Linked DNA regions of Homo sapiens: region 1 is linked to region 2. The links come from fine-mapping of genetic effects on gene expression. A gene starts in region 2. The other region holds a variant in brackets. All regions are shown on one strand. Distances are between the middles of the regions. Region 1 overlaps PTPRG (protein tyrosine phosphatase receptor type G). Region 2 holds the start of PTPRG (protein tyrosine phosphatase receptor type G).

Region 1 (13,760 bases), 96 kb after region 2:
AAGGCATGAGCCACCGCTCCTGGCCAGATCATCTAATTCTTAATTGAACTGCCTTCTTTGTCCAAAACTCTTCTGGAATTACACATCTAGAAATGCTCCCATTCAAAACATTATTCCCCTAGAGGAGTTCTTTGTACCCTTTCCCCAGCCTCCCCCAATGATGCATTCTATATACTTATAGTGTAATATCAAAACCAAGAAACTGACATTATCAATTCACAGACTTTATTCAGATTTCACCAGTTTAACATGCACTTATTTGTATTTACTCAGTGGTGTTTGTGGTGTGTATGTGTATGTATAGTTTTATGCATTTTTTTCATATGTGTAGATTTGTGTGACCAGCATCACAATCTAGATACAGGACAGTTCCATCACTGCAAAGATCTCATATGCTACCCCTTGATAGCCACCCCCACATCCCTAACCTCTAGCAATTACTAACCCATTGTTATTTCGAGAATGTCATTATATAAAGGAAATCATACGGTACATAACCTTTTGGTGCTGGCTTGCTTTACTCAGTGTAGCTCCCCAGACCCATCCAAGTTGTTTGTTCCTTTTTATTCCTGAGCAGTATTCCATGGTAGGGATGTGGCAGTTTGTTTATCCGTTCATCTGTTGAAGAACATCTGGGCTTTTCCTAGTTTGGGGCTATTACAAATAAAGCTGCTTATGAACATTTGTGTACATAGTTTTTGAGTGAACCTAAGTTTTTATTTCTCTGAGATAAATGCTCAAGGGTGCCATTGCTGGGTCGTATAGTAAGTACATATTTAGTTTTATGGGAAACTGCCAGACTATTCTCCTTTACTAAGCACGTGATAACTGGAATTGGCAGTGTTTGAACAGCTCTTCCTGTCTTTCATTTTACCGTCTTTCACACCATTATCTGGATTAATTTTTAAACAAAAGAGGAATTGCAGTTTTCTTACATGCCAGATATTATACTAAGCACCATACACATACTATCTAATTTAAGCCTCATAACAACTCCCCAAAGGAGGGTCAATACCATTGTTTCTCTAAAGAAGGAAACTGAGCCACATGGTATGTGCGATTAATGAGCTAGATGATCCTGTAATTGTTCAGGTTCATCCAGCTCATTAAAAGTTATCAATTGGCCGGGCACAGTGGCTCACGCCTGTAATCCCAGCACTTTGGGAGGCCGAGGCGGGCGGATCACGAAGTCAGGAGATCGAGACCATCCTGGCTAACACAGTGAAACCCCGTCTCCACTAAAAAATACAAAAAAATTAGCCGGGCGTGGTGGCAGGCACCTGTAGTCCCAGCTACTTGGGAGGCTGAGGCAGAAGAATGGTGTGAACCTGGGAGGCGGAGCTTGCAGTGAGCTGAGATCACACCACTGCACTCCAGCCTGGGTGACAGAGTGAGACTCCGTCTCAAAAAAAAAAAAAAAAAAAAGAGTTAGCAATTCAAACTCTGACCTTGGAGCTGGTGCTGCTTTTCTGAAACCACTGAATGTTTGGTGCCCTTGATGCCTTGAGATGTTCCCTTACGAAGTGTCCTGATTGTGATTGCGGCCTGTGAGGCCCGTTATGGCTTGTCTATCTACTGACACTCCCTTGTACCCATCCGTGAATCCTCTGTCCTCTTGGGTTTTATTTTTCTGTCTTGCTTTTGATATGCCTGAAGCCCAAGACAGGCTGCAACTTCATGATAAGTGGAGGCTTCATGTTTGATTAAACCAGTCCTATGCATTGTCACCTGAGAATATCCTGACAGTGGAATTAGTAAAGGAGACTACTGCAGGGTGTTGTGGACCCCCATGGTGATGAAGACACTCTGAGATTAAAATAACATATTAGGAGATTCGTTAACATAGTTGTCCATTCGTTACCCAGGCAATCCTTGTTTCATTCATAAGGTCTCATGACTGCATCTTAGTTGGACTTAGCAGCACCTAACTTCTGCGGATTCCCTGGCATCCCTCCAGGACCCCATTCTTTCCTGCCTTGAATGCCTTCCTGTGTTTCACACATAGGCACCAAGGATCCAGGTGGAAGACACCTAGCTTGCTCCTACCAGGCTACACATTTTCACCCGAGGGGAAATGAAAACTGGGCAGCAAAAGAGAGGTTTTCTTTTGGAATTACACATCTTGAAATACCTCAGTTCCTCTGTCCTGAGACAAAGGCATTTCATTTTTTGTTGGCAGCTAAATGCAGGGTGTTTGAGTGGGGTGACCCCAGGCTGATGCACCAAGGGAACGTCTAATGCCTGCACTTCCCAGGCTTTCTGCTGCAGAACACACACTCATTTGGCTGCCATCTGTAATACAGTCAGAGAGAGAGGGCAGACATTTTTCTATTAGGTTCTATTACCTTGTATTGGAAGAATAATGGCATGTTGCTTGAATGTTTCCCAAGAGAATGTTTTCTGTGCTCCGTGTATATTTCAAACTCCAAATAAGAAAAGTAATGAGGGTTGGGGGCTGCTGGTGAGGCAATCTCCACTTTAAAGATTCTGATCTTTGTTGAAGCAATTATTTATTTACATGAAAAAATAATGCCTTTTCCTTGAGCTGTCTCAGGAAATCCAAAAGTGAAGAAGCAAATAGACGTTTCATATAGTATAGCAGTGTCAAAGAACAGTCATATGTGAGTTTATTACCAAGGTTAAAAAACCTAGTGTTAACTTTGGGTTTGTCTAAGTTTGTTTTTCATTGTTACACGAGTATGCCGGAGACTGGTTAATTTATTTTACTTCCTCCCTCCCTCCCTCCCTTTTCCCTTTTCACTTCCCTCCCTCCCTTCTTTCCCTCCCTCCTTCCTTCCTTTTTCTATTTTCTTTTAAGAGATGAGGTCTTACAGTATTGCCTAGGCTGGTCCTGAACTCCTGGGCTCAAGTGATCCTCCCACCTCAGCCTGCTAAAGTACTAGGATTACAGGCATGAGCCCCTGTGCCTGGCTTTGGTAATTTATAAACAATATAAATTTATTTCTCACAGTTCTGGAGGCTGGGAAGTCCAAGATTTAGGTGCCAGCAGGTTCAGCTGTCTGGTGAGGGTTTTTCTCTGCTTCCAAGGTGGCACCTTATTGATGCATCCTCTAAGGAAGATATGCTGTGACCTCTCATGCAGAAGTGGAAAAACAAGTGAACCAAACACTATCTGAAGACTCTTTTATATGGTTCTTAATCTCATTAACAAGGGAGGAGCCATCATGGCCTAATTGCCTCGTAAAGATCCCGATTCTTAATACCATCACATTGACAACACCTACGTTTTGGAGGAGACATGCAGGCTTCAAATCACAGCAGGGCTAAATCAGCATAATATGACAACTTGGATTTATTGTGTTGAGTATAATGCAAGGCACTTTGCTTATATTACATTGGCTCCTCTTAGAAATAGGTTGTCGTATAGATGCACAGACTGACACTTAAAGTTTTAGTTACTTGCTCAAGATCATGTGGCTGATGACAGGGCTTGAAATTGGTAAAGCCTTGGTTTGGGGTTTGAATCCTGCCTTATGTCCCTGAGCTCATTATTTCAACAGACTTGCTATAATCTGCTGGTGGAAAGCAGACCATCAAGAACATCTTTTACAAATGGTAGCCTGAAGGTCCTAATAAACAGGGCACTGAGTTTTACTGCTAAACCTAATAAGGGGAGTCTCTGGTTTCTCTCGATTTCTCCTTGTCCTTAATTCTTCCACCTTTTCTTCCCAGAAGGAAAAATAAAACCCATAAGCACCAGGGATTAAAAAGCCTGGTACTTTTTTTCCCCTGTACAAATGCAGTGATACATATTGAATGTGTGAAAACCAGAGCTGTACACGGCTGCTGAGAAATTATCTTTTAATACATAAGGGTTACAAAACCAAATCAAGGAAGCCAAGGGTGGGGGCACCATGTACCTTGATCCTAAAAATGTTGAATGCCAGCGAGGTATTACAGAATCTACCATTGCCACTCACCTAGGAACACCAGTGGGAATGTGTAGTACAAGATTTTTGTGGAATGAGACTCATGTTCGAAGAACACAGTGACGAGTTCCGCACAAAACTGTTGAGAAGCAGCCAAAAAAGAGCTCATAAGAGATTGAGTCCCGGCCAGGAGAAGGGAAACTTG[G/T]CACCTGATTTTATTAGGATGCAATAGTTATCCAACCATTGGATGTGCCTGCGGTTTTCACAGGGAAGACCGTAGACCTCAGGATGATAACTGAGTAAGAAAGAAGTTTTGTGTTTGAGCCCATGTGTTTCTAACCAGAGTGCTCTTTTCCATGGAATAAATGTTTCCTAACACTAGTGTGAAGATTTAATCAAATACACACTTCCTCATCAAACGCACAGTCAACTTTTATCTTAAAATTTATTAATGTGATGGTTTTCATTTTCAAATGTAAGCATTTTCAAACACTTAATTGTTTAACTCTCGATTTGCAAAATGAGTTTTTTGGTGAAATGTGTCATTTGAGGGTCTTTTACCACTGTTTGGTTTTATAGCTTGCTTTTCTTGTTTACTTTATGATGTAAACTAATTTTTACTACCAATAAAAGTTTTAGGAATCCTATTTACATGTGAACAATGATTCAGCAATTTGAACCTATATTTTTTGCTGTGGAGTTGTCTAGTAAAAGTTTATATGACTCTGCTGACTCTAATGGCTCCGATAAATTACACATTTATCTGTGTGTATGTTTATATTTTTTTCCTCATTGCCTACACTTCTAGAACCCTGTTCATCAACCTCAATTACACGATGTATTTGGACACTCTTTCTCTTTTTTTTTTTTTTAAAGGAAAAACATAATTTCTATATACTACCAGATGGGTGTGTTGGCTGTAAGATAAAAATCCCAAAATACTTAAGAGACCATCTGGTATCTTGGTAGGGTTTAGTTGATTAAGTTCTTGTGTATTGATTTCAGTCTGAGCAGAGGTAATCTTATCCCTTTGGATCTCTACTTAAAGAAAAAAGTTGTCGTTGACATTTTGTCCCATTGTTAATAATCTTTTTTTTTTTTAAGTTTCACAAGAAAATACTAGTGATAGATGATAGCAGCCATTGATTTATATGCTCACACAGTTGCTCATGACTAGTGGTTGTTTATCCTGAACGGGCCTGATGAAGCCTTAGGGCTAGACTTAGTTCATGAGACACAGATTTCTTTAGAAGATGATAATGGGTCCATGTGGGAATTGACCTGGATTCATTGGTGTTGAGCTTGAAGCTAAGCAATTTCCGTGCACCATGTTGGAAGTTTTCTGGGTGTTACTTTGTAGGCCACCAGTGAATACTGCACCTCTGGTGTACCTTGGAGAGTGTCAGAAGCTTTATATATATTGATCCATGTAAGTCATGTAAGAATCAAATAGCCAGGTGTGGTGGCTCACGCCTGGAATCCCAGCACTTTGGGAGGCCGAGGTAGGTGGATCACTTGAGGTCAGGAATTTAAGACCAGCCTGGCCAACCTGGCGAAACCCCGTCTCTACTAAAAATACAAAACTTAGCCGGGCATGGTGACACACACCTGTAGTCCCAGTTATTCGGGAGGCTGAGGCAGGAGAATCACTTGAACCTGGGAGGCTGAGGTTGTAGTGAGTAGAGATCACACCACTGCACTCCAGCCTGGGCTACACAGCGAGACTTCATCTCAATATATATATAAAAGTAGGCCAGGCGCAGTAGCTTATGCCTGTAATCCCAGCATTTTGGGAGGCTGAGGCAGGTGGGTCACGAGATCAGGAGTTCAAGACCAGCCTGGCCAAGATGGTAAAACCCCATCTCTACTAAAAATACAGAAATTAGCAGGGTATGGTGGTGGATGCCTGTAATCCCAGCTACTTGAGAGGCTGAGGCAGAGAATTGCTTGAACCTGGGAGGCGGAGGTTGCACCGAGCCCAGATCGCCACTGCACTCCAACCTGGGAGACAGAGCGAGACTCCGTCTCAAAGTAAGTAAATAAAAAATAAAATGAAGAATCAAATAAATAGTGCTCTATTCCTCATTCTGCAGATGCGGAGTGTGTTAGCCATTGACAGGGCTGATCTTCAAGTTTACCTCTGCCTGACTCTGAAATTAGAATTTCCTCTACGGTGCAATCTATTTTCCCTGATGGCCAGGACACTTGTTGAGCTCTTTCTTTGGGTCATGGACTGGGCTAGGGTTAAGGGATATTCAGTGGAGCAAATGTTCCCCTTCTCTGCCCTTCTAGAACCTTGTTCCTCTAGTTACAATATTTTAATATTGTTGTTAATGTTTCTTTTCTTATTTATATTTAAGATACATCCTCAGGCTCTTCATTTTAAACAGGGATTCTCAACCTTAGCACTAGTGGTATTTTTGGGCCCCGATAGTTCTGTGTTGCTGGAGCTCTTCTGTGCATTGTAGGATGTGTAGTAGTATTCCTGGCCTCCACTCACTGGATGCCACTAGCATCCTCCTAAGTTGGAACATCCAGGGGTAGTCAAATGCCTTCTGGCAAGTGGGGGATTCTCCCCTAATAGAGAACCATTCTTCTAATGTAACTGCCAGCTATTTGTCACTGGGTGAAGGGTCAGAAGCCTGTTTGGCAGCTGCAGAATCTTTGTATCAAAATGCTATGGAGTGGAGATTTACACTACAACCACCAGATATCATGGGGGTAGAAATTATGCCAAACAACAGATTTGTATTCATTGCAGAACATTTTATAAGTACATATAAGATAAGGGAAAAGTAATTTTTTTTAAAAGTACTTATAAGCCAAAAGAAGAGACAATTTAAAAAATCATCTCACAATGTAGAGATGAATGTGACTTAATGTCACTACATCCTGATAGTTTTTTTTTTCTATACATATTACACATAGGAAAGACGTATTGTACATATAGGGTTAGTCAAGACATCCTGTCTGTGACTGATGTTATGCAATCTACTTTTTCATTTTATATTGTGAACATTTCCCCATTTCTTTAAATTATCCCCCTTTTTTTTTCCAGCATGGTTCATAATGGGTGGCATATTTGTCTCCTGTTCCTTGTCATTTTTAGCAGCTGCAATAGTGATCCTCCATAAATGGGCCAGTGTCTACTTTTCTGTCATTTTAATGTTGGACATTTTATTTGTTTTCATTTTTTTTTTTGTTCTAAATAATGCTTTTAGTCCTCACGTATTTATGTACATGAGACTGTATGCCAGGCACCCCTGCTTCAGGTACCTTGGATAGAACAGTGAACAAGGCTGATCCCTGTCCTCATGGATCTTACAGTCCAGCTGCGTATGTGTAGCTAAATCATTGCATATGTCTTTGTTTTGTTAGGATTCGTCGTGCCCTGCCATTTTCTCAGATGTGTTGTCCCCTGCCCTTTCAACTTTCTTTGCTCATCAGGGTAACCTCTTCCTGTATAAGGGCCCAGCCTCTATGAAAGGGAGGCTCTAGAATCTGCTCGCCTGTGAGATTAGAATTCACCTTGGCCCACACTGTTCCCAGTTATCTAGTGAAATCAGCATGAATCAGAATCTACTAGAAGCAGCATGTGTGCAGGTTGTTAAGCGGGGAGCGGTGGGGGGCGCGGGGAACTGTAAGGGAACATGTAAGGCTAATTAAGGTACATCATCTGTTAGGTGTCTTTTTTGTCCTGTTTTTCATGGATGGCTCCAGGGGAAGCCCAGTGCCACATCTGAGAGGCATAGAGGGAACATGAGATACATGCCCTTCCAGGGCACTTTGACTTTGACAAATTACCTAATCTCTTCGGACCTCAGTTTACTCTTGTGCCTTATAGTGTTGTGGTGAGAAATGAATCGTGTGTGAATAGCATTTACCGTGGAGTCTGGGATGTGGGAGTCATTCAAGAGAATGGGGCTGCTCTTGTGCTTTAACCAACACCTGCCCGCCACCCCCTGCACCCATATGCTAGATAATTGATGTGCGTTCTCAAGTCTTCATAGCACATTTAGGAGATATAGGTGGAATTTTGTTAGTTTTTGCTTCATATGCTTTGAGGCTCTGTTGTTAGGTGAATATATATTTATGATATCATTCTTTTTTCTTTCTTTCTTTTTTTGAGACAGGGTCTCACTCTGTCCCCCAGGCCAGAGTGCAGTGGTGCAGTCTCAGCTGACTGCAGCCTCCGCCTCCCAGGCTCAAGCAATTCTCATACCTCAGCCTCCTGAGTAGATGTGACTAGAGGCATGTGCCACCATGCTCAGCTAGTTTTTTGTATTTTTAGTAGAGATGAGGTTTCGTCATGTTGTCCAGGCTGGTCTTGAACTCCTGAGCTCAGGCAGTCCGCCCGCCTCAGCCTCCCAAAGTGCTGGGATTACAGGCGTGAGCCACCATGCCTGGCCTATAATATAATTCTATCCTGCTTTCTTGTATGCAGCCCAGGGCTTAATGGGTTGACCTTCTATGCTGCTGACAAAGGAAGGCTACCTGTGCTTTTTCTTTTTTTTTTTTTTTTTGAGACAAAGTCTCACTCTGTCGCCCAGGCTGGAGTGCAGTGGTGCAATCTCGGCTCACTGCAACCTCTGCCTCCCGGGTTCAAGAGATTCTTGTGCCTCAGCCTCCTGAGTAGCTAGGATTTTAGGTGCCCACCACCATGCCCAGCTACTTTTTGTATTTTTTTTTTAGTAGAGACGGGGTTTCACCATGTTGGCCAGGCTGGTCTCAAACTCCTGACCTCAGGTGATCCACCCACCTCGGCTTCCCAAAGTGCTGGGATTACAGGCGTGAGCCACCGCACCCGGCCACCTGCGCTTTATCAGCTTATTGAGGTGTGCGGCAGGAGTCCTGGTTGCCTGGTGAGTCATCCTGCAGGTGGAATGGTTGAGTCGCCGAGTCCCCTGCCAGATTGTCCAGAGTTGTACAAGGGCACAGTGCTGCCTCTCAATGACAGGAAATAGGTATGATTTCCTCTCTCTTCTTTGTCCTTATTTCATCTCTGATTATTGTCTTCCCAGCATTTAACCACATTTGCAAGTTACGTTTTTCACTTATTTGTTGACCTGTTCATGATATTCATTAATCCTGTAGATTAAGATCTTCAGGGATTGTTATCAGTTTCACTTATTCTTTTATCATATGGTCCCAGGATACTGCCTGGCACATAGTAGATGTTCAGAAATATGGACTAAATGAGTATTATAATTGACACATCTCAGTCAAGAAGGAGTGGCAGTTATACTCAGTTGTAACTTTTTCTTGAAGATATGTATCTTCAAGTTACTTGTACTAATGGGTGGTTGCATATTTTGGCTCTTTTACTTTGTATTTTTTTAGAAACAGGGTCTTACTTTGTCACCCAGCTTGGAGTGTGGTGGCAGGATCACGGCTCACCACAGCTCACTCCTGGCTCACTCCTGGGCTCAAGTGATCCTCCTGCCTCAGCCTTCCCTGTAGCCAGGACAACAGGCATATGCCATCATGCCTGGCTAATTTTTAAATTTTTTTTGTAGATATAGGATCTCCCAATGTTGCCTAGACTGGTCTTGAACTCCTGGTCTCAAGCCATTCTCCTGTCTTGGCCAACCAATTGTGAAACTGTGTCTGGCCTGTTTAACTCTTAAGTGTAGATGTAATTTACTTCATGAAAGAGTCAGACTCAGTGGCTTATACCTGTAATCCTAGCCCTTTGTGGGAAGCTGAGGTGGGAGGATTGCTTCAGGCCCTGAGTTTGATACCAACGTGGGCAACATAGCAAGACCCCCCCCCCCCCGACCATCTCTAAAGAAAATAAAATGAAAAAATAAGCTGGGCATAGTGGTGAGCTCCTGTAGTCCCACTTCTCAGGAGGCTGAGGAGGGAGGATCAGTTGAACCCAGGAGTTTGAAGCTGCAGTTAGCTATGATTGTACCACTGTATTCCAGACTGGGCAACAGAGCCTGACCCTGTCTCTTAAAAAAATAAATAAATAAGAAAAACAAGAAAGGGCTTCTTTCCTTCTGAGTGTGTGAGCATCCCTCATTTGATGCAGAAGGTGAGGTGACACAGAAGTGGTCTCTGTCTCAGGGATTAGCAAATTTAGTAGGGAAATGCCTCCATAGCCCCCAATTTACATATGAATAGTTAAAAACTGACCGTTTCATAAAATAAGCCCTAACCAGGAATGCATTTTAAGGGAATACTCTTGTGATGAGTGGATTTCCAGAGCAAAGAAGAGACACAGTCTGAGTTACCAGTGCCAATTACTTGGTACCACTGCAAATCATTCCCCTTTGGCAACATTATTTTTAAAATTAACTTTTAGGAATTTCTTCTCCAAGCGTATTCTTGGTTCGGCATTCTAACAGTTCATTTACCTGATTGCATTTGATGGGTCTGTTGGGATTCTGGAATGTCAATTTTACTTTTTAGGAGATAGGTTGCCTGGGTCATGTCCAACATTCTTGTAGATTGAAGATATTTTCCTTAGCTTCTTGTTCTTTGCTTTCTGGACTCACATCCTTTAGTTGTTTTCGATTTGGGGCTACTATAAAAAATGTTTTTACTTATTCTCCAGATATTTTCTTCCAGCCATATGCCGGGCCCCTTTGTTTCAGGCACCCAGGATAGAGTGGTGAACAAATCCCTGCCTGCACAGAGCTGACATTCTAGAACCTGTGTAGGGGAGAGAAGATTCCTTTCCCTTACACATCAAAAAGTTCATGGCTGAGGCCCCCATAACAGATTAACAAGAGAAAAGCAAGCATATTTATTGAATATCAGTTTTACGTGTCACAGGAGTTTTCAGAAATGAAGACCCAAAGCAACGGGGAAAACTGTATTTTTATGGACAGTGGTGCCAAAGTATGATTGGAGGACAAAGGGGTATTATTGTCTACCGGTAATAAACTGTGGGGGTGGAGGGGAGCCAGCAAGGCTTGTTTTGTTCAATTTCTTCTTGGTGTCTCACAGAAATAAGGACGTTCCTTTCCTCTGGGCATGTGGAGGACCTCTCTAGAATGAGGGTGAGACTATGACCTACTTTCAGGGGAAGGTCAGTTAAGTTTTATAACCAGTTTCAGGGGGAGAAGGGATGAGAGAGGACCAGAGAGACCATCCTGCTTTTGATGTTCTCCCAAAGGCAAGGTGCTCCATTTTGAGGCCAGGAGTTTGGTACTAGCTTGGGCAACATAGCAAGAGCCCCCGTCTCTACACAAAATAAAATAAAAAAATAAGCTGGGCATGATGGTGAGCTCCTGTAGTCCCACTACTCAGGAGGCTGAGGAGGGAGGATCAGTTGAACCCAGGAGGTGTTCTCAACTCTGGCACATGCTTGTAGCTGAATTATTGATGATGCCTTTGATTTGTTTTCTTGGGATTCATTGTGCCCTAGTGTCTCCTGTATGTGCCGTCCCTCATGCCTTCAACTTTCTTTGCTCAAAATGAAACCAATTGATGATAAATGAAAGGATCAGTAGGCTTTAAAGCAGTTATTTACAACTGAGCATTTAGAGTTCCCACGCTTAAAAAGTGGGAGCTGTTCCCATGGCTGCTGAGAGTGCTGCGGAAGCTGGTTCTCTTTGTCCTTAAGTTGATCGATAGCAGGCATCAGCGGGGAAGATGCTTTGTACTTTGCTTGTTAAACAGAGGGCTGCTAAGCAGCTGTGGCAGTGTGACCCTGGTTGTGCTGCTGTGGGTGACATGAGTGTGCATGTGGACAGTGGTTATGGTGCTTCCCTACACACTGGGCACCCACCCTATGGACAGACACACTCCATGAAAATGTTTGGGAAGTATAAGAGCTCCAGGCCATGGGATGAAATGGGAAGGACCTAACTCTGATTTCTAGATTTGGAATTGAATCTGCATGTACTGTTCAGGTCATTGTTCTGGCACATATTTGACGGTTTGGTTGTCTTCAAGCTCAGGGGCTGCGAAAGTTGCCAGAATAGGAATGTTCTGGCCTGATGCAAGCAGGCACCCGGTGCCTGTGGATTCAGGACTGGTCACACTGCAGCTGGACATTATGAATTCAGATGTCCCTGATGAGACGGTGTCCTAGGACAGTGGCTAGGTGAGGTCTCAGGATCTCAGGTACAAGGTTAGAGGAGGCAACGTGGAGTCACAGTGGAGAGCCTGGTTGGTCCCATAGCCAGATAGCTACAGGTTCAGGTACCAGCTCTGCCCTCATCTATTTTTTGTGACCTTGGGAAAGTTAGATAACAATTTGAGCTCCTTTTTCTATCTTGAAAATAGGGATCTAATGTCTAACTTAGCTCCCTGGTGTTTTATTCTCCCCATCTCATCCACATCACACTTTTATTTTCAAGTCTTGTTTTCTTTCTGTCATTTATTCCCGAGATAAGTGTATGCTTGTTTTGTTGTTTATTTTCCCAGCTAGGATACAAGTTCTTTGCGAGTTAAGGATTTGATTGGTCTTGTTCACTGCTCTGTCTCAGCACCCAGCACCTACTAGGTGAAGTATTTATAGAATGAAAGGATGAGTTTGCTAGACACTCATGGCCATGATCTAGTGCTCCCAGGTCCGTATTTTTTGGCCAAAGCCAGAAAAAGACCATCTTCAAGTAGAAACATAGTTATACGCCTGTAAAAATTTGACACATTATAGATTCTGGCCACCATGCCCTTGGAACTTCACTTCTGAATCTGTGTTCAGACCAGGAATGTAGCACTGGTTCTCATGGCTTGCTTTGGAGGAAGTCTTTGGAAATTTTTGCTGATAGCCTTCTACCTAGGAGCATGAGTTCGGCTGTTTTCTCCTGCCCCTGCCCCTGCCCCTGCCCCTGTTCCCCTTTTTGGACAGTGCCCAAGACCTAGCAGACACACCTTGGGGCCCCTCTAGCCTGAAAGCCTTTGGTAATCCCTGCTTTTAAGGGCCTTTTGCCATGGCCTGATGAACATCAGACAGGATGCTGATGGTTTTATTCTTGTAGCTCCATAGCCGTCAGCCTGAATAGATGTTCTCAGGGCTTCATATAGGCATATACAATGTATGTTTTCTTTCATCGACAAAGGCACTGATGGTGCAAGTCCAAACAGTGCTGCTCAGTTGAGGATTTTCTTGTTCAATTTTCGGGAGCTCTTGACTGACTGCATTCTGCTTCACTGGAGAAGAAGATAGTTTGATGAGGCTGTGTACACTTCTTAAAAGTGAAAAAGCCTTTGCAGGTTTGTCCAGACAGTGGGGTGACCAGGAAGGAGAGTCAGAAGAGAAGGTAGGGGTCTGGATCCTGATTTTGAGTGTTCATTTCCCAAAAAATCTTAGGAAGATAAACACTTTCTTGGTAACCTTTGAGTGTCATGTTCCTTCTCTGAAGAGTGTATTAGATTCCATGTGGTATACCCAGTAGATTGCATTTTGAGTGTCATTGATGATTAATGGATAGAGACTGCTTAGACCACTGTATGGAGAAGGATTCTGAAGTCATGTCTGGGTGCAGTGGGAGAGTGTCATGATACATTGATTATTACTTTTCATAACCGATTTACCTAAACCAAATAATACTAGTTTTTAAATTCCTGGATGTGATACACAATTTCCTTTAAAAATAAATTTAATTAGAAGAAATGAATGGTTTTTTTTAAATAAGGAAAACTAGAGTTTTTCAGGGGGAATGTGGCTATGGTGGAAACTTTGAACATAGTATGAGAAAGAATGAAATTCTGGCCGGGCGCGGTGGCTCACACCTGTAATCTCAGCACTTTGGGAGGCCAGGGCAGGCGGATCACGAGGTCAGGAGATAGAGACCATCCTGGCCAACATGGTGAAACCCTGTCTCTACTAAAAATACAAAAATTAGCTGGGCCTGGTGGTTTGTGCCTGTAGTCCCAGCTACTCAGGAGGCTGAGGCAGGAGAATCGCTTGAA
Region 2 (14,973 bases):
CCGGCTAATTTTTTGTATTTTTAGTAGAGATGGGGTTTCACCATGTTAGCCAGGATGGTCTCGATCTCCTGACTTCGTGATCTGCCCGCCTCGGCCTCCCAAAGTGCTGGGATTACAGGTGTGAGCCACCACGCCCGGCCTACCTTTAGTTTTTAAAGGAATCTCTGTACTGTTTTCCATAGTGGTTGTACTAATTTACATTCCCACCAGCCGTGTAAATGTGTTCCTTTTTCACCATATCCATGCCACCATTTATGGTTTTTTGACTTTAATTATGGCTATTCTTGGCCGGGCGCTGTGTCTCACGCCTGTAATCCTAGCACTTTGGGAGGCCAAGGTGGGCGGGTTGCCTGAGCTCAGGAGTTTGAGACCAGCCTGGCCAACATGGTGAAACCCCATCTCTACTAAAAATACAAAAAATTATCCGGACATGGGGGCGTGTGCCTGTAGTCCCAGCTACTCGGGAGGCTGAGATAGGAGAATTGCTTGAACCTGGGGGGCAGAGGTTGCAGTGAGCTGAGATGGCGCCACTGCACTGCACTCCAGCCTGGGCGACAGAGTGAGACTCCAAAAATAATAATAATAAAATTTAAAAAAAATTAGCAATTATGGCCATTCTTGCAAGAGTAAGGTGGTATCTCATTGTGGTTTTACCCTGATGATTAGTTAAGCATTTTTTCACATGTTTCTTGGCTGTTTGTATATCTTCTGAGAAATATCTTTTCCTGTCCTTTGCCCACTTTTTCATGGGATTATTTGTTTTTTTCTTGCTGATTTGTTTAGGTTCCTTGTAGATTCTGGACACTAGTCCTTTGTCAGAAGCATAGTTTGCAAATATTTTCTTCCACTCTATGGGTTGTCTGTTTACTCTGCTGATTCTTTCTTTTGTTGTACAGAAGCTTTTTCGTTAGTTTAATTAGGTCTCATTCATTTATTTTTGGTTGCATTGCATTTGTTTGTTTTTTTGTTTTGTTTTGTTTGAGATGGAGTCTTGCTTTGTCACCCAGGCTGGAATGCAATGGTGCGATCTTGGCTCACTGCAACCTCTGCCTTCCGGGTTCAAGCGATTCTCCTGCCTCAGCCTCCTGAGTAGCTGGGATTACAGACGTGCGTCACCATGCCCAGCTAATTTTTGTACTTTTAGTAGAGACGGGGTTTCACCATGTTGGCTAGGCTGGTCTTGAACTCCTGACCTCGTATTCCACCTGCCTCGGCCTCCCAAAGTGTTAGGATTACAGGCGTGAGCCACCATGCCTGGCCTGTTTTTTGGGTTCTTAGTCATAAAGTCTTTGCCTAAGTCAATGTCCAGAAGAGTTTCTCCAATGTTATATTCTAGAATTTTTATGGTTTCAGGTCTTAGATTCAAGTCTTTAATCCATCTTAAGTTGATTTTTGTATAAGGTGAGAGATGGTGATCCAGTTTCATTCTTTTACACGTGGCTTGCCAGTTTTCATAGTACCATTTATTGAATAGGGTGTCCTTTCACCAATTTATGTTTTTGTATGCTTTGTGGAAGATCAGTTGGCTGTAAGTATTTGGCTTTATTTCTGCATTCCCTATTCTGTTCCATTAGTGTAAGTGCCTATTTTTATACCAGTACCATGCTGTTTTGGTAACTATAGCCTTGTAGCATAATTTGAAGTCCAGTAATGTAATACCTCCAGATTTGTTCTTTTTGCTTAGTATTGCTTTGGCTATGTGGGCTCTTTTTTGATTTCGTATTAATTTTAGGATTTTTTTCTAGTTCTGTGAAAAATGATGATGGTATTTTGATGGGAATTGCATTGAATCTGTAGACTGCTTTGAGCAGTATGGTCATTTTCACAATATTGATTCTTCCCATCCATGAGCATGGACTCTATTTCCATTTGTTTGTGTCATCTGTGATTTCTTTCAGCAGTGTTTTGTAGTTTCCCTTGTAGAGAACTTTCACCTCCTTGGTTAAATATATTCCTAGGTATTTTATTTTTACTTTTTTGCAGCTGTTGTAAAAAGGATTGAGTTCTTAATTTGATTCTCAACTTGGTCATTGTTGGTGTGTAGCAGTGCTACTGATTTGTGTGCATCGATTTTGTAATCTGAGGCTTGACTTTAGGAACCTTTTGGATGAGTCCTTAGAGTTTTCTACGTATATGATCATATCATCAGTGAACAGTGACAGTTTGACTTCCTCTTTTCCAATTTGGATTCCCTTTCTTTCTTTCTTTTGCCTGATTGCTCTGGCTAAGACTTCCAGTACTATGTTGAATAGAAGTGGTGAAAGTCGACATCCTTGTCTTGTCCCAGTTCTCAGGGGGAATGCTTTCAACTTTTCCCCATTCAGTATGTTGCCTATGGGTTTGTCAAATATGGCTTTTATTACTTTGAGGTAAGTCCCTTTTATGTCTATTTTGTTGAGGGTTTTTATCATAAAGGGATGCTGGATTTTATCAAATGCTTTTCCTGTTGTCTATTGAGATGATCATATGGTTTTTGTTTTTAATTCTGTTTATGTGATATATCACATTTGTTGATTTGCGTATATTAAACAACCCCTGCATCTCTGGGATGAAACCTGCTCAATCATAATGTATTATTTTTCGGATTTGCTGTTGGATTCAGTTAGCTAGAATTTTCTTGAGGATTTTTGCATCTATGTTCATCAGGGATATGGGTTTTCTTTTCTTTTTTTTTTTTAATGTCCTTTCCTCATCTTGGTATTAGGGTGATGAGTGGCTCCATAGAATGATTTAGGGAGAATTCCCTCTTTCTCTACCTTTTGAAATAGTTTCAGTATGATTGGCACTAATTCTTCTTTGAATATCTGATGGAATTCAGCTGTGAATCCATCTGTTCTTGGACTTTTTTTGTTGGCAATTTGTTTATTACCGATTCAATTTCATTGTTTGTTATTGCTCTGCTCAAAATTTCTATTTCTTCCTGATTTAATCTAGGAGGGTTGTATGTTACCAGGAATTTATACTTCTTCTCTAGATTTTCTAGTTTGTGCATGTAAAGGTGGACTTAGTAGCCTTGAATGATCTTTTGTATTTCTGTGGTATTGTTGGCAATATTTCCAGTTTCATTTATTTACTTATTTATTTAAGATGGAGTTTCGCTCTTGTTGCCCAGGCTAGAGTGCAATGGCGCGATCTCAGCTCACTGCCACCTCCGCCTCCCAGGTTCAAGCGATTCTCCTGTCTCAGCCTGCCAAGTAGCTGGGATTACAGCCATGAGCCACCACGTCCAGCTAATTTTTGTATGTTTAATAGAGACGGGGTTTCACCATGTTGGCCAGGCTTGAACTCCTGACCTCAGGTGGCCCACCCACCTCGGCCTCCCAAACTGCTGGGATTACAGGCCTGAGCCACCATGCCTTGCCTCCAGTTTCATTCCTAATTGAGCTTGTTTGGATCTTCTCTCTTGTTTTTTAAGTTAATGTTGCTAATGGTCTATCAATTTTGTTTATCTTTTCAAAGAACCAGCTTTTTGTTTTATTATCTTTTGTGTTTTTGTTTGTTTGTTTCAATTTCATTTAGTTCTGCTCTGATCTTTGTTATTTCTTTTCTGCTGGCTTTGGGTTTGGTTTGTTCTTTTTTCGTCTAGTTCCTTAAATTGTGACATTTGTTTGTCAATTTGTGCTCTTTCAGAGTTTTTTTTTTGTTTTTTTCTCTCTTTTTGAGACAAAGTCTTAGTCTGTCACCCAGGCTGGAGTGCAGTCACACCATCTCAGCTCACTGCAACCTCTGCCTCCCAGGTTCAAGTGATTCTTGTGCCTTAACCTCTTGAGTAGCTGAGATTACAAGTGCATGCCACCATGCCCAACTAAATTTTGTATTTTTAGTAGAGATGGCGGGGTTTCACCATGTTGGTCAGGCTGGTCTCGAACTTCTGAACTCAAGTGATCCACCTGCTTCTGCCTCCCAAAGTTCTGGGATTACAGGTGTGAGCCCCCATACCCATCCTATTTTGATGAAGTTATATTTATCATTTTTTTCTTTTATGGATTGTGCTTTTGGTGTCTTATTGGAGAACTCTTTGCTAACTCAATGACATAAAGATTTTCTCCTACGACTTCTAAATTTTTTGTAGTTTTATGTTTTACATTTAAACTTATATTCTATTTTAGTTAATTTTGCTGGCCGGGCGCGGTGGCTCACGCCTGTAATCCCAGCACTTTGGGAGGCCGAGACGGGCGGATCACGAGGTCTGGAGATTGAGACCATCCTGGATAACACAGTGAAACCCCGTCTCTACTAAAAATACAAAAAAATTAGCCGGGCGTGGTGGTGGGCGCCTGTAGTCCCACCTACTCGGGAGGCTGAGGCAGCAGAATGGCATGAACCCGGGAGGCAGCGCTTCCAGTGAGCCAAGATCACGCCACTGCACTCCAGCCTGGGTGACAGAGCAAGACTCCGTCTCAAAAAAAAAAAAAAAATTTTTGCCATAAGATGTGAGGTATAGGCTGAGGATTTTTTTTTTTTTGCATATGGATGTCCAATTGTTCTAATATGTTTTGTTGAAAAAAACTATCCTCACTATATGAAATTGCCTTTGCATCTTTGTAAAAATCAATTGGCAATATTATGTGGGCCTATTTGTGGGTTCTCTATTTTATTTCATTATTTCATGTATCTATAACTCCACCAATACCATATTGGCTTGATTAATGAACCTTTATAGTAAGTCTTACAGTCAAGTAATGTGAGGCTTCTAACTTCTTTTTCATAATTGCTTTGCTAGTCTAGTTCCTTTGCTTTTCTATATAAATTTATTATCACCTTGTCTGTATCTACAAAAAGTGGAAATGCACAAATGCATAGATTTATTGAAAATGTATATTTGACTATAATGTCATCCAACCCATGAATATAGTATATTTCTCATTTAATTAGTTTTTATTTGACTTATTTCATGAGCAGCTTATAGTTTTCTACATACTAATCCTACACATATGTTGCTAGGTTTATACTAAAGTATTTCATTTTGGGGAGTTTATCGTAAATGAGTTTTTTTGAATTTTAGTTTTCAATCTTTTGCTGCTCATATATAGACACAAAAATAATTGTTGTAGGTTGACCTTGCATCCTACAACCTTGCTAAACTCACTGGGAACTATGCAGATAATCATGTCATCTGTATAGGGGCAGTTTTATTTCTTGCTTTCTAATATATACGGTTTTTTTTGTTTGTTTTGTTGTCTTATTGTACTGGCTAGAATTTCCAGAATAATGTTGAATAAGAGTGCTGAGAATGTATTATTTACCCTGAGTGAGGAAAAAAAAAAAAAAGAGTGGTGAAAATGAATATCCTTGCCTTGTTTCCAGTTTTGGAAGCAAAGAATTCAGACTTGTATAAGTTTAGCTATGGGTTTTTTTTTAATAGATGTCCTTTATTATGTTAAGGAACCTCCTCTCTTCCTAGTTAACCGAGAGTTTTTATCATGAATGAATGTTGAATTTTGTCACATACCTTTTCTGCTTTAATTGATAGGATCATGTAGTTTTCTTTAATCTATCTTTAATGTAAAAGAGCCTTACCAGTCATATTTGCTATGACTATTTAATCCTTTTTTTTTAGACAGCGTCTAGCTCTGTCACCCAGCCTGCAGTGCAGTGCTGCAATTACAGCTCACTGTAGCCTCAATTTCCCAGGCTCAAGAGATCCTCTCACCTCAGACTCCTGAGTAGCTGGGAGTATAGCCACACACCACTAAGCTTGGCTAATTTTTTTTTTAAGAGACTGGGGTCTCACTATGTTGCTCAGGCTGGTCTTGAACTCCTGGGCTCAAGTGATCCCCCCATCTTGGCCTCCCAAAATGTTGGGATGACAGGCATAAGCCACCACACCCAAACTTAATCCTACTTGTTAAATAGTGTATTAAAACACCACTATATGGCCGGGTGCAGTGGCTCACGCCTGTAATCCCAGCACTTTGGGAGGCGGAGGCAGGCAGATCACTTGAGGCCAGGAGTTTGAGACCAGCCTAGCCATCATGGCGAAACCCCATCTCTACTAAAAATACAAAAAATTAGCTGGGCGTGGTGGTGCACGCCTGTAGTCCCAGCTACTCAGGAGGCTAAGGCAGGAGAACTGCTTGAATCCAGGAGGTGGAGGTTGCATTGAACTGAGATTGTGCCACTGTACTCCAGCCTGGGCAACAGAGCAAGACTCTGTTTCAAAAAAAAAAAAAATGCCACTGCATGTTCATTTTCTTTCAGCCACTGAATATAGGGCTTTTTGTAATGACAAAAGTTATTATTAGGGGACTTAAGAGATTTTCTATGGTTATATATATTTTCAGAATAAATAGGCTTTGCTAAGTCTTAAGTTCTTTAAAATAAACATTGCCTCAAAATTTAAAGTTAGGATGATTACAATGGGTTTTGTTGTTGTTGTACAAACATTCACTTGAGAAGTTGAAAGCCCAGTCACAAATGTGTTTTGTCTATACATGAAAACAAACGAAGGGTAAAAGGTAAATGGGCTTTGTATTTATTTCCTAGGGCTGATGTAACTAAGTACATCCAACTAAATGGCTTAAAACAACAGGAATTCAATGTCTCACAATTCTGGTGGCTAGAAATCTAAAATGAAGGTGTCATCAGGGTTATGCTCCCTCTGAAATCTGTAAGGGAAGTTTTTGCCTCTTCCTAGCTTTTGGTGTTTGCTGGCAATACTTGGTGTTCCTTGGCTTGTAGATGCATCACTCCAATCACATGGCTGTCTTCTTCCTGTGTCTTCCCCTCATCTTTCCTGTGTGCTTGTCTGTGTCTGTGCCCAAACTTCCCTTTTCTATGAAGACACCAGTCATATTCGATTAGGACCCACACTAAGGACCTCATTTTAACTACATTACCTCTGGAATGACCATATGTCCAAATAAGTTCACATCCTGAGCTTCTAAGGGTTAGATACCTTCTTTCAACATTACTTCACAATAATTCAACCCATAACAGGCACTACTCACTTTTAACAGTAGATGAAGTAGATTGTTTGTATAGAAGGCCACAAATTTCCTCCTACCTTTCTATTCATGTCCTTTTGCTTCCTGACTTTGCTGCTTCTCCCATCAAGAACTGGAGTCCATTTCCACCTCCTCTTGAATCTGCCCTGGCCTTGTCTTGCTTTGACCAGTCAAATGAAATGGAAGTAATTTCACACAACTACTAAGTCTAGGTCTCCAGGTGCCTTGCAATTTTCACTCTCACTCTCCTACCTGAGATCTTTTTGTAAATAAGTCTGAGACAGGCTGCTATAGAGATTAGTGGGTGAGGTCTGAGATGCTCCAACCAACAGCCAGCACGAATTGCCAGGCATTTGAGTCAGGGAATCTTAGACTACGAAGCCCCAGCTGAGCATCTGGATTCTGGTGCTATAGATGCATGAGTGACCTCACACAGAACCAACAGAAGAACTACTCAGCTGAGCCCACCCCAAACTTCTGTCCTACTGTTTTAAGCTACTACGTTTTGAAGTGATTTGTTACACAACAATAAATGATTGATACAGAAGAATGTTAAAAGCTTGAGTCTTCTGTTGTTTACAGTCTGAATTGCCTCAACTAAATCACTTAATTCTAACAGCCCCTGCTTCCTTTTTTGTAAAATGTAGATATTTTACTCATCTGTCACCACTGGTTCCAGGTTTCAGGTTTTCAGTTTTAATGAATAAAAACGTAAGGGATAGGAATAAGAGGAAATTATTAGCTCAAGTAACTGACAAGTCAAGGAGTTGGTTTGGCTTCAGGTATGACTTGATTCAAGGACTCAAATGAAGGTATCAGGGATTTGTTGGCCCCCACCTCTGTATTCTTTTTTTCTTCTTGTGTCAGATTCTCAGATGGGCTTGCCCCAAGTGAGGGCCCTCCTTGCAGTATGAGGTTTAAGTTGATCTGGCCTGGCAAACCTAAAAGGAAGTTTGACTTTCATTGGACCTACTAGAAATATGTGCCCATCCCTAGACCAGTCTGGTCAGAGGGATGAAATGCTCCATTTGGTCAGGACTAGGGCACGTGTCCACCTAACCCAGTGAAGTGGAGAGGTGGAGGTAGGGATAGGGGAAGAAAGGGTTAGGCTCACCAAGACCATCTGGGGAGACTGGCACAAAGGAAAACTGGGACACTATTACTAGAAGAAAAGAAATGGACGCTGAGCAGGTAGAAAATAACAGATGTTCACTTCTTATTACATAGGCTGGGTAAACAGATAACAGTAATAGCTTATACTTATTAAATGCTTATTAGGTTCCCAGCACTGATCTGAATAGTTTATGTATATTAATTCCTCTTATTCTTCTCTATTTAGGAAGATGTATGGTTATTATAGTATTCCTACTTTACAAATGAGGAAGCCAAGGCATAAAGTGATTAAGTTGCCTATGGTCATGCATATATGAGTAGCATCAGAATCTAACTAGACTGGCTTGAAAGCTACTGCCTTTAACCTCCAGTCTATATTCAAAATAGGTCACCAGCACTATGGTAGGCAGGATTCTAACATGGTCCCCAAGATCCCCAACCCTTGGCATATAATTCCTTCTTCTTGAAAGTGGGTGGGACCTGTGAACATGACAGGATAGCCACTCCCTTGACTAGGTTACATTATATGACAAAAGTGATGAAACGGTCACTCTCTAGACTCCTGTAGGAGGATTCTCCTGCTGACTTTCAAGGAGTAAGCTGCCATGTTGTGAGGGCGCCGTGTGGCTTAGACCACTAGTTGAAAGCAGCCCTTGGCCAACAGCCATCAAGAAAATAGTAATCTCAGTCCTACAACCACAAGGATCTGAATTCTGTCAATAACCTGAATGTGCTTGAAGGAGGAGCCCAAGCTCCAGATGAGAAAGCCTGGCCCATCCCTTGATTTCAGCCTGATGAGCCCTTGAGCAGAGGACCCAGCCATACTGTGCCCCAGCTTCTCACCTCTAAAAGTGACAGGCAATGAGTATATATTTTTTTAAGCTGCTAAATTTGAGGGTCATTTGTTACTAACGTCAGCATCTTCTCTTTGTAGCCTTTTTATCTTCCATCAGGGTAGCTAGGCTCTCCCTCCTTTGGCACTCCCAGGGCTTTTCACACCAACTTGCTCACTGTTATCATAGAGCTCCCATATCACCTGGGTTAGGATTGTAATTACCAGGTAGGAGCATGGCAGGGCTACTGCTAGGTCATTATTGTGTGACTAGCACTTGAAAGTGTCTATTATATATGAATCGCTCTGTAATTGGTTGCAGAATAAATGAAAAGGCATCTGTGATGTATGTTTGCAAAATTTTATCTTTTGTAGGAACTGGTGGGGCCTGGATTGTGCTTCCAAGGGTAGTTTGGGGGTAACCTTCAGCCTGGGGTCCTAGGACAGTCACCAGTCCATACCGAATTGGATGTGAAGTTTTAGCATGGGGCCTCCTACACTACTAAGGTAGTGGTAATTCACTCTGCAAACCCATATGAGGTTTTCCCCGACTCTGAAGCTCTTTTTTTACATTCCACATTTTGGTGCCTTCTCAAGCCATTATTCTGTTGCCTTGAATCACAGCTGTGGAGGCAAACAGGCCTGGGTTGAGAATCTCAGCTCTGCTGCCCACTAGCTGAGGATCCATCATTGTACTCTTCTGAGCATGTTTCCTTGTCTATTAAATGGGGAAAATAATTCTCACAGCTGGCAGTATTTTAAGAACTCCATGAGAGAACGGAGCATGGACTTAGGAAGGTATGCTCCCATAAGGCATGGGGGCTTGCCCTTTTTGTTCGAGGCTGTGTTCCCAGTGTGTCCCTCAAACAGTAGGTGCTCAATACATTTGTTGAATGAGCAAGCAGTTTATGGCATGAATTCAGCACAATGCCTGGTAGACAGTAAGCATTCCACAAAGGACAGCTTTTACTGTCCATTTCACAGAGGAGGAAACCTCACCTGAGGACGCTGACACAAGTATTTGACGAGTTTTTCCTATTTTATCACTCGACATTAAGAAGGTAGTCAGGGATGCTGGGGTAATCTAACTTGAGGAACGAATATCCCTCATTACAACACTTCCAAGAAAAATGGCCCTCGCAATCCTTTATAAAGAAGTCAGGATTCCAATAAAACCAGGAAGGACCACATTCCAAAGCAAACAAACTCGCCTCATTCCCCACCCTGGGGGAGGGTGTTCACCCCCGTTCTGCTAAAGATAGAGCTAGGGCCCTCCCCAGGAACTTCCTGGCTTTTATTAGTTTGTAATCCCATACGTAACTTTTCAAAGGTTTTTCTTTTGGAAGTGTGGGTGTGAAAATGCTTCCTTAATCACATCGAACGGGAGGATCTCCGACCATCTGTACTTTATTTGAAAACCTAGCATCCGGTTGGGATGTTTGGGTGGGTGGAGGACCCTGCCGTGTTGGGATGAAACAGCAGGGACACGTTTAAAACACAAGAACCATGCGCGGTGGCTCACGCCTGTAATCTCAGCACTTTGGGAGGCTGAGGCAGGCGGATCACAAGGTCAGGAGTTCGAGACCAGCCTTGCCAAAACGGTGAAACCCCGCCTCTACAAAAAAAACCAAAATAAAACAAAAAACAAACAAAAAAAACCACCAAAAAAATAATCAGCCGGGCGTGGTGGCGGGCGCCTGTAGTCCCAGCTACTCGGGAGGCTGAGGCAGGAGAATCGCCCGAACCCGGGAGGCGAAGGTTGTAGTGAGCCGAAATCGAGCCACTGTACTCCAGCCTGGGCGACGGAGCGAGACTCCGTCTCAAAACAAAACAAAACAATCCCACGTCAAGATCGCTTTGAAACACAGGCAGAAAAATTAGGCAAAAAATGTCAAACGGCTAATTACCTTGGCTCAGTTACACATTTACTCGAAAGCCCGCCTCCCCCACTTTTAGCCCCAGCGTTAAGAATGTAAAATAGGGCGCTTAGAAGTCTAAGCGATAAAGATCTTCTTACCGAGAGCCAAGGGACAAAACTCATTACAGATAAGCCTAGTCCTCCCATTTCCCCCGGACGCCTCTCCCCGATTGCTAAAGAAGCAGCCGCTCCCCGGGTAGCTGCCAGGAAATCAGTCCGGCCCCGCGGCGCTGCTTTCACCCTGCAGGGTGTAAGAGGCGCACTTCCTGCGCCCTCCCCGCGGCCAAACCGGGGTGCGGGAACCTTCTCCAGAGAAGCTGCGAGTTGGGGAAACTCCGCCACCGATCCATCGTGGCGCCGGGAAAGGGGATGCGGGGCTCGGAAGGGCTAGATTTCGCAATCCTGGGATCGACATTCCTCCCCTCCCCCACTTTCCCCAGCCTTGGACTGGGCCAATGAAAGCCCGAAAAAGAAAAAAAAAAAAAATTAAATCTCAATGTAGCCGGAGTGCAAAGGCCGCTCGGCTTTGTTTCCCGGCGGGGGAATGCGCTGTGTTGGAGGCGCGAACAGGAGCCGCAGACGGTGAGCCTCACCGCTGCAAATGCCAGGGCAGTGAAGCCGAACAGAAAACCCCATCGCTTTAAAAAGGCAGCTGTCCGCCCTCCCCCTTTCCCCTCGCCAGGGCGAGGGGCCCCTCAAGTCCGGGATCCGCGAGCTGCGCGGAGGATCTCGCCAAACCCGAGCACCGTGCGGCGTCTTTTAAGAGCTCGAACAACGGGAATCCAGCAAAAAACAAGCCGGCCCCAGAAGGCAGCCTCCCTCCTCTCTCCGCGCACGGGCTACAATCGCCCCCAGTCCCCAAACTGTCCCAGTAGAGGCCGCGCGGAGAGAGCAGAGCCGAGGGACCCAGCGCAAGGCGGGAGCCAAGCGCGGCTGCTTTAAGAACGCGGAGAGCGCGCGCCCGCCGCCAGCTGGCCCGGGCTGCGCGCCCCCGCCGCCACCGCGCGCCCCCTGTTCGCTCGCTCCTTCGCTCGCCGGCTTTAAAGTCTCTGCCAGGATCCATGCTCACATGTTACTTCCTGTATGGAGGCATGGCCAGTTTCCAGCCCCGCGCTCTTCGTTCCTTCCCAGCCTGCGCCGGAGCCACAACTTTCAGGAGCATGGACTGAAGGCGCCCTCGCCCCAGCGCCCCTCTGAGATCCTTTGTGTTTTCCTCCGTTTCCTCCGGCCGTTTCTATTTTGGGGGGCTCTCCGCTCCCCCTGCCTCTCCCCTCCCCTTCCCCTCTCGCAAACATGCCTCCTTCCTTCCCGGGGCCCTGGAAGGAGCTGCCTGCCTGAAGCCCGGAGACGCCGCGCCGCGCTCAGCCCCGCCGCCGCCCGCCGGCTCTCGGGCTGTGCTGCGCTGCCGACTCAAGTTGGGGATCCTCGGCTGCTCGCCGCCGCCGCCCGCGGTCCCTGCCTGCCCCAGGCCCGGGGCATCGCCGCCGGCCGCCGACTCCGCGCCCTGCCCGATCGGCTCTCTCCTTTTTAAACGGAAAGCAGCCTTTCTCCGCCGAGAGGATCGTCCCCAGCGTGGCTCTGCGTTCCCGGTCACTTTTTGAGATTTTCCGGGGGGCGCTCGGCGGCTTCCCGGATTCCAAGGGGACTCGGGCCGCCGAGCGCGGGGGGCCCGTGGAGCGGGCGAGCCGGGGAAGCGCCCCGGCTTAGCGGAGGCTCGCACGGAGGCAAGAACTTATTCAACAAGTTTACCTCCCTGCTTTCCTCTTTTCGATGTGCGTTTTCGGACATGCGGAGGTTACTGGAACCGTGTTGGTGGATTTTGTTCCTGAAAATCACCAGTTCCGTGCTCCATTATGTCGTGTGCTTCCCCGGTGAGTGCCGGCCGCCGAGGGGATGCGGCCCCGGCCGGCGCGCGTTGGGGATGCGGAGTTGTCGCCTGGGCGCGGAGCTCCGGCGCCCGTCCGGGAGACCCTGGAGAGGGTGGAGGGTGGCCCGGCGCCCGGATAGGAGAAAAGGATTGCTCCGCTGGCTTGGATGATGTTTAGGGAGGCAGGCTAGTGGTCGAGGAAGGTGGAGGCAGGGGCTGGCCGGGGAGGGGGCTGGGGGACGCGGGGGTCTGCTCCCGCTCCCTTTTGGGGGTCCTGGGGAGCTGGAATCGGGAGAAAGGGGGACTTGCTTTGCTGACTCGTCGCCGATCGGGAGAACTCGAGTTGTGGGGCGGTTGGGGAGACTGAGGCCATGGAAAGGATGCTTCTGTGGGTTTGGGGGGCCCGGGATGAGCCCCCTCGCTCTGGCGGGTATTGAAGGAACTCAGAAGGTGGGGGTTTGCTTTGCTGTTCTCCATCCCTTTGGGAGGGCTAGGTTTCGGGGAATGGAAGTCGGAGGCTGGCTGCGGAGGACTGAGGATGTGTGGGGAGCAGCCTGCGTTCTGGGTCGGGGGCGTCCTCCCTCTCTCTGGGGGCTGGGGCGCGGGCAGCACTTCGGTGCCGGCGTGAGGCAGCCTCCTTGGGCGCAGTGAGACGGCAGGGCGCAGGCGGTTTCGGAGAGATCCGTGTCTCCCCTAGCCCCGGCCCGTGGCCCTTTCCCTCCGCTGCTCTGCTCGATTGGATTGCCTGGGTCTGGACGCGGGGAGGGGGCGGGGGCGGTTTCGGCGGCCGGGGCGGTTTCGGCGGCCGGGTTGCTGTTCGCGCCGGGGCTGATTTTTTTCCTGTCTCGCGCGCCCTGCCTACCTTCATCTTTGCCCTTTTGCAGGCTGTTCGCGGCTGGCAGACCCAGTCTCGCTCCTTTCTGGCCAGGTTAAGACAGGAACAATACTGGCCGTTGATAAGAATAAATCACCGCACGTAACGGTGTGCGGCTCGGCGACCCTCCACTTCCAGCTCTCAGCTGGCAGTTCCCCCTCCTCTCTCCCCTGGGGAGGGCAGAGGCCAGCTGCCTCCCTCTCCTCTCTTGCAGGTCCCCCGGGCAGCAGCCCCGAGCTCCCTCGTAGCTGTCCCTTGGGGTGGAGGCCAAGTCCTGCCCTAGCCCGGGGAAGGGCTGGAAGAAGGGGTGATTTGCTTTTCATCCCTCGCTCCCCTAAGGACAGAGAATTCCCCGTTTTTCTGCCCTCTCATCCATCAACTCCTGCATACCCGGAGGTGGAGGTTATCTGAATCAAGAAAAAGAGGAATGTGCCCCGAGGTCTCCGCTCTGCCTGGTTACAGACGCCTGTCCTCGGGCGGCTGGAGCGCCCGTTTTTGGTGCAGCGGGTCCCTTAGTCCCGTCGTGCGACCCGGAGCAGGGCGCGCGGGAGCCCTCGTCGCCCTTGGGGATCCCCTCGGGGGACTGGCAGCGAATGCCCCCTTTGCAGAATCGGGGATGGCCTCGAGGGGCAGAAAGGGAAAACACCGTCTGGTATTCTGCACCCCCTTTTCTCTCTGCGCATCCTCCTGCCCGCGGAGCGGCACGGAGCTCCAGCCCAGAAACGCAGCTCGGAGGCCGAGCTAGGACGTGCGTCCACACTCACCCTGGGGTTTGCCCACTGGAGTCCTGCCTCTACGGTAGGACACTGGGGCCTGGGGTTTGCCCACTGGAGTCCTGCCTCTACGGCCTCTACGGTAGTGTAGGCCATGGGGACATCTCCCCTTAGAAACAGCTGCCTTCATTCACTAAAAGATCACTGCTCAGTATTTGGGTTAATCATCTCTCCTTTCTAGTCTCCCCTGCTTTACCACGGACTTGACGACTGAGCGGGCTCAGGTGCACACAGGGGTTGAGCTTTGTGAGGGCCACTCTTTAATGGGTGCAGTGGGAGGTCGTGGAGGGCTGCCTTGCAAATTAGAGGAATTTCCAATTCCACTTCTGTCCTTCTTGCGCTCGGGGATGCAGTCAGTGGGCTGACCGTGGTTTTCTTTTCCCTGGTGTGTGAGGAAGCTTGAGATCCAAAATGGGACTGCCAGGGAACCAGCCTTCGTGGGGCTTGGACCATTTTCGTCTTCTCATTTTCTTTTCGCGCCCACGCTGCGAGGTAAATAGCCCCTTTCCTGGTCCGGGAGCCGAGGGGTGTGGGAAAGGGAAAGGACAGTGGTGGGAGGCGCAGGGAAGAGGGCGGTTTGGTTTGGAAAAGTGCAGCCCGAGAGGGAGCAGCAGGCTTTGGAGCAAGGTAAAGTTAAAATATCAGAGCT

The links. PIP is the estimated chance that this variant, and not a neighbour inherited with it, causes the effect. A credible set is the group of variants that fine-mapping cannot tell apart.
Region 1: its variant is the best candidate, but not a certain one, in a credible set for the expression of PTPRG in tibial nerve (GTEx, PIP 0.58).

Annotation. Positions count from the first base shown.
Region 1 is chr3:61,646,387-61,660,146 of GRCh38, forward strand. All of the region lies in intron 1 of PTPRG (protein tyrosine phosphatase receptor type G), which reads left to right. LOC124906245 (a long non-coding RNA gene) reads left to right here and starts at 13,115. Exons shown (of 2, transcript XR_007095942.1): 1 at 13,115-13,760. The variant G/T (reference allele first, on the strand shown) is at 4,096.
Region 2 is chr3:61,549,692-61,564,664 of GRCh38, forward strand. PTPRG (protein tyrosine phosphatase receptor type G) reads left to right here and starts at 11,880. Exons shown (of 30, transcript NM_002841.4): 1 at 11,880-12,681. The coding sequence starts at 12,597. RefSeq lists an enhancer at 9,982-10,657.